2 separate regions of the Homo sapiens genome follow, and region 2 is linked to region 1. The links come from fine-mapping of genetic effects on gene expression. A gene starts in region 1. The other region holds a variant in brackets. All regions are shown on one strand. Distances are between the middles of the regions. Region 1 holds the start of SLC6A13 (solute carrier family 6 member 13). Region 2 overlaps SLC6A13 (solute carrier family 6 member 13).

Region 1 (2,912 bases):
ATTTTAGATTACAAATGCCAAAGTTTATAATGCATAGTAGGCCATTAGTAAGTACCACTCAGTGATACGTAAAAATGGAAGTCAATAGCACTGCTTTGAAGATGGTCTTTTTTTTACATGAGTTTGTAGGCTGTCTCAGGACGCTTTTGGTTTATTGCTTTACAGAGCTCAGTCTAACAGATGAAAGCTTGAAAGGGGAGAGGAACAGGGGCCGCTGAAACATAAGAATAATAATTTCCAAGAAGCTTCTGGGAAGCTCTCCAGGTATTACCATGCAGTGTTTCCATGCCCCTACCCCATGCCCTTGAGTTAGATGAGGGATCAAGGAAACGGAAACTACCTTAGACTCTTCGATCCGTCTTTCTTTCCACACTTCTCCGTCATCTCAAGATGTCTCTATCACCTCACTCACTCATTGCCGCATCCCCTACCTAACTCATTCTCACAGTCTGGCCAGAGCCCAGCTTAGCTCAGGGGTCTCTCAGTCCCGTCTCCTTCAAGAAGACTTCCGGGCTCACTGCTCACTGTGAATAATCCCTTAAGGATGAATAACAGCTGCCATTTACAGTTAGTCATCATCTCCTGAAATCTCAAGCTAGACAGTGGCATACGTAGGACTCAGACCCCACACTCTCTGGTGTCAAAGTCTGAGCAGGTTTCCACTACATGTACTGTGCTTCAGCACATGGCTGAGGTGGGACTCTGCCCTGTCCTAGACTCCAGGCTGAATGAACTACTCTCACAGCCGCCTCTGTGGGCTGTTCCTGCAGAGAAACGAAGCTCCCTGGATGACCTCGGCCTCGCGCTCACCGCCTGCTCCTTCCCTTATAACAGCTTTAGGGCTTTGCTTTATTTTAAACGTTGGCACTTCCTTTTCTCTATTGATTTAAAAAATATTTTAAAATTCTAGCATATTAAAAAATCTAAACAATATTGAAAAAGTGGGGAAAAAATCTCCCTTACTGCCATCTCCTGATCTCAGTTCCACTCTACAAATGTAACTACTATTAATCATTTAGCGAAGATTTTTTCAGACTTTTTCTATATGTGTATAAATGTCTGTGTATGTTTGGGAAGTTTTTCTGACATCTCAGAGTTCTGTATCTATGTATCTTTGTTCTAAATCATCGTCCATTCCACATTGCAAGCTGCGAAACGGTAAGATAAATGTATTTTTAAATTAATCTACACAGCACCTGACCAAAGGAATACCTATTCTTGATGGATTTATAGGAGCACTTGTGTTGGAGACAGGGGTGGGAGGCAGGATCCCTCCAGAGAGACCCTGAGCTCACCAGGTGGGAAGCGCACATGAGCTCCGGGGAGGAGACCACACTTCATAAGCTCACCAGCAACTGGCCCGACCTGCCAGGGCGTGCACACTCCCCAGACTGCGAAATCACTCATGTGTGGGTTGTCCAGTGGCCGAGGGGAGGGGAGGGGAGAAAAGGGGAGGGGGAGGCACAAGGGTGGAATGTGGGCTGGGCCAAGTTTAGAATTTCAAGTGCCACAGAGGCGTTCTGGAACCACACTTTAAATAGCCAGCACCTTCTCCTTCCCCCTTAGATAATTCTTCTCCCCTGACTGGACCTCTGGCAGCAGCTTCACTAAGGTTCGAAATGTTTTCTTCTCTTTTTTTTCTATTTCTGCGTCTCAGACTGCAGGTTGGTGGGATCCATGGGACTTACAACCAAAGGACTTTTTTCTTACCCTCGCCTAGAAAGTACGCTTCTGACATGTATGTGTGCAAATGCAAAGATTATGTGCTATTTTCTTGACTTTCTGAAACTTGGGTGGCTGTTGACTTAAGTGACACTGTGATTTGGAAAGAGAGAGCCCTAGATTGAGAGGAAAGACAACTGGATTTAACTCCAAGAAAACAAAGTCTTTCTTCTCTGAGAAAAGAGAACAATGATCAACTCTGACAGGACTGAAAGAAAACAAAAATTTGAGTACCTGTTATTCTATTAAGTGTGTATACATATGTATATTTCCTCATTTAATTCTTATAGCTAAGTATATCCTATCTATCATCCCCACTTTTACAGATGAACAAACTAAGGCTCAGAGTCATTCATTAACTTCTCTGAAGTCAGACATTGGTATGAGAAAAAACTAATGTTTGAACCTGGCCTCATCTGACTCTACAGCTCATGACCTTTCAGACACAACATGCTACCTCTGAGAAGCAGCTCTAATGAGGCTAAGGGAGCCAGGAGAAGGCTACTGTTTCTCCTAGGGTCTGGGAGGGTGGAGAAGGGAAGGCTTTCCATCACTGGGAGAGATCCATCAGCTGGTAAAGGGAGGGGAGGCCAGCACAGTCAGTACCTTAGACAACCTTCCCAAAAGGACTGAGGAGCCCTCTTGGGACCAGTTACTTGAGTTTCTCCTTTGTAGAAAGGAGCTCATTCCCTAATTTATCAGATAAACATAGATGCCTGCTGTTCCCTGACTTTTTTTTTTTTTCTTTTTTTTGAGACAGAGTCTCGCTTTGTTGCCCAGACTGGAGTGCAGTGGCGCGATCTCGGCTCACTGCAACCTCTGCCTCCTGGTTTCAAGCGATTCTCCTGCCTCAGCCTCCTGAGTAGCTGGGATTACAGGTGCCTGCCACCATGCCCAGCTAATTTTTGTACTTTTCGTAGAGACGGGGTGTCACCATGTTGGCCAGGCTGGTCTCAAACTCCTGACCTCAGGAGATCCACCCGCCTCGGCCTCCCAAGTGCTGGGATTACAGGCGTGAGCCATTGCACCCGGCCTGTTCACTGACTTTCTAATTTTCTGGGTCAGAGCCAAAGTAGAGTCTGTGGCCAGAAGAGGTTACTGCTGAGAAAGTTCTGTTAACATGAACTTTGCTTGAGGCTTAGAAAAAAGTCCATCTGCCTCCTTCTCCAGAAAAGAGGCCACTCTGCAAA
Region 2 (2,912 bases), 36 kb after region 1:
GGTGTTTCTGTTCGTCCTTTTGCCTTTTTGTGAGCCGAGAATTACTCTCCCTGTCTTTAGACAGAGGTTGCTGAGACGTGAGGGGCAAAGCTACATACTGGTGGTGGCCCTGCTATTAGGGACAGTGTTCCTGGAGACCCTGTGCCTGGATTCCTCCACACTGGTCATAGGAGAGAGTGGGGGCAGAACCTAGGATCAAAAACCTGACAGGAGACCTAGCTTCATTCTAGAGCCCTGTCCCACCCTCCTACACGCTTCCACCATGGGTCTTTTAGTCTTTTTCATTTTCTTTGAATGCCTAATGCCTGTTCTATCCTAGTAGTGCCCAAGAAACTTCACCTAGGAGTCCAGGGAGTAGAGCCCACTGGGGTGAGCAGAGGTAGCAGGATGCAAGTGTTGGCTGAGAACAGGTTTCTCGCCATCCCTAGCCAGTGTCTGGCTCAGCCACATGCCTGTGTCCGCCCATGGCTTGAATGGCCTGGCTTTCCTGGGAGTTCACCTTTCTTGCCCTTCCCCTTTGTAGGTGTGGATGGATGCAGGCACCCAGATATTCTTCTCCTTCGCCATCTGTCTTGGGTGCCTGACAGCCCTGGGCAGCTACAACAAGTACCACAACAACTGCTACAGGTGATTGGGGGCGTGGGGCCTGAGCCACACACCTGCATCTCTCTACTGTCCTTCCAGCCACGCTAGACGAGGGTGAGTTGGAGGGTGCATCAGCTCCTGGATCTGCCCCCCTGTCTACACCCCCATATCCAACACCCCAGGGCTACCAGGAGCTGCAAGGAGCCAACTGCAAGATGGACAGAGAATTGCATCCGAAAGGGTGGGATAGTTGTGATTGGCTGGGAGACCACAGCAGGGGTGCCTGGCCTCCTGGCTGATGTAGAGGTTAGTGGGCTCAGGAGTGCTGGGTAAGCAAGCCTGAGAAGCACCACAGGTCTTTGAATAATGTCGTTTCCTTATAACTTTGATGAGAGAAAAAAAACTGGTTTCATTATAGGTTGTTTTGCTTAAAATGGCAATTTGCGAGAATGTATCCATGATGTGAAGTGAGGTCCTACTGTGCACCCCAGTCTTGCTTGCTTGGTAAATCTGCCCCCAAAACTTTGAATCCTTGCCCCTTTTTCACACCATCTCCCTCACTTCACATCCTGTCCCCCTCGTTCTCTCCTTGCCTACCTGGTTTGTGCTCAGAAAATTTAAGCCAATTTTAATACACGCTGAAACACAGCTGAAGTGAAATCATATGGTGCCTCTCAAAATTGAATTCAGGCGACTAAGAGTTATTTGTTGTTTGGGATTACCCATTAGCATGCCAGATGGGATGATGGCAGAGTGGTGGCGTCCCATGCGGTGTGGACCTACGTGGTAGAGAGGGGCGGCTGTGTGGCGGTTTGTCACATCTAGATCCATGTTTTGCTTCCCTGGAGCC[G/T]CATTCTTTTAGGACTACCTTGATTTATTCCGTCCCTGGGCTGGTGGGGCCGAGGAGTGTCGGAGGAGAGCCAGTGCTTTGCGTGGTCCTCTGAATTCTGCCAGGTAGCCCTGCTCCGGCGTCCGTGAAGGGGCCAGGACAGTGTCCGCCAGGAGGGGCTGTGCTCCCAGACAGGAAGCAGGAGAGGTTGCAGCCCTGTTCTGACCCTGCCATTCCGCCCTCTCCTCACCCCTGCCCCACAGGGACTGCATCGCCCTCTGCTTCCTCAACAGCGGCACCAGCTTTGTGGCCGGCTTTGCCATCTTCTCCATCCTGGGCTTCATGTCTCAGGAGCAGGGGGTGCCCATTTCTGAGGTGGCCGAGTCAGGTGAGTGTTACTGGGGAGGCCTGGAGGCAGTGAGCCTGGTTCAAACCTCTGGCAGCAAGCGTCTAGAGGCGTTTCCATTGTGTCACCTGCACTCTGGGTGAGCTACGGCCACCATTCAGTGGATGCGTTCTGGGAAGACTTGGCGGAGAATTGAAACAGTCATTCCAGCTTTAAAGAGTAGGCCTACAGTGAACATTTTTCTTCCCATCCTTGGCTTCCAGTTCATTACCCTGGAAGCAGCCAATGTTATCTATTTCATGTTTATCCTTCCAGAAATAGTTTAGACATATATGAGAAAAAATATATATACAGACATATACATGCAATACATATTACTATTTCTATTTCTTGCCTCCTTCTTAAAAAACCAAATGATAACATATTATACACACTCTTCCGCACCTGGCCTCGTTTTGTTCACTATAAAATGAATCTCAAGGCGAAGTTTCCATCAGCAGATAGGGTTTCCCTCTTTTGTGAGTGACTGCCTTTCCACCATGCAGTGCTATTTTGCTGCTTTCAAATAACATCAAGGCCCAGGCCCCAGTCTGGATAAGCCATAAAATGTTTCTCTTGCTCACCTACTTTGCCCTGTAATAATATGATTTTTTTACCTTGGCATTCAGAAGCACGCCTGGGCCACACAGGATGCCAAGCCCTGGGCAGTGGATGTCTGTGATTCTCTTTAAGAACGATAGTGTCTCTCTCTCCCTCTTTTTTTTTTTTTTTTTAAACTGTTTGAGATAGAGTCTTGCTCTGTCACTCAGGCTGGAGTGCAGTGACATGATCTCGGCTCACTGCAACCTCCGCTTCCCGGGCTGAAGTGATTCTCATGCCTCAGCTTCCCGAGTAGCTGAGATTACAGGCATGTGCCACCACGCCCGGCTAATTTTTGTATTTTTAGTAGAGACAGGGTTTCACCTTGTTGGCCAGGCTGGTCTTGAACCTCTGGCCTCAAGTGATCCACCCACCCCAGCCTCCCAAAGTGCTGGGATTATAGGCATAAGCCGCCATGGCTGGCCCGTGTCTCACTTTCTAAGTGTTGACTGTACGCCAGGTGCTGGGCGAGGCACTCTACTCGTACCATGCAACGGAAACCTGCGGGCAGGC

The links.
Region 2: its variant is fine-mapped to the expression of SLC6A13 in thyroid (GTEx, PIP above 0.99). The same link has a PIP of 0.9 or more in liver.

Annotation. Positions count from the first base shown.
Region 1 is chr12:261,489-264,400 of GRCh38, reverse strand. SLC6A13 (solute carrier family 6 member 13) reads left to right here and starts at 1,565. Exons shown (of 15, transcript NM_016615.5): 1 at 1,565-1,612.
Region 2 is chr12:225,280-228,191 of GRCh38, reverse strand. SLC6A13 (solute carrier family 6 member 13) reads left to right here. Exons shown (of 15, transcript NM_016615.5): 8 at 524-627; 9 at 1,678-1,802. Among named protein-coding and RNA genes, the nearest start is that of SLC6A12, 13 kb to the right of the region's middle. The variant G/T (reference allele first, on the strand shown) is at 1,436.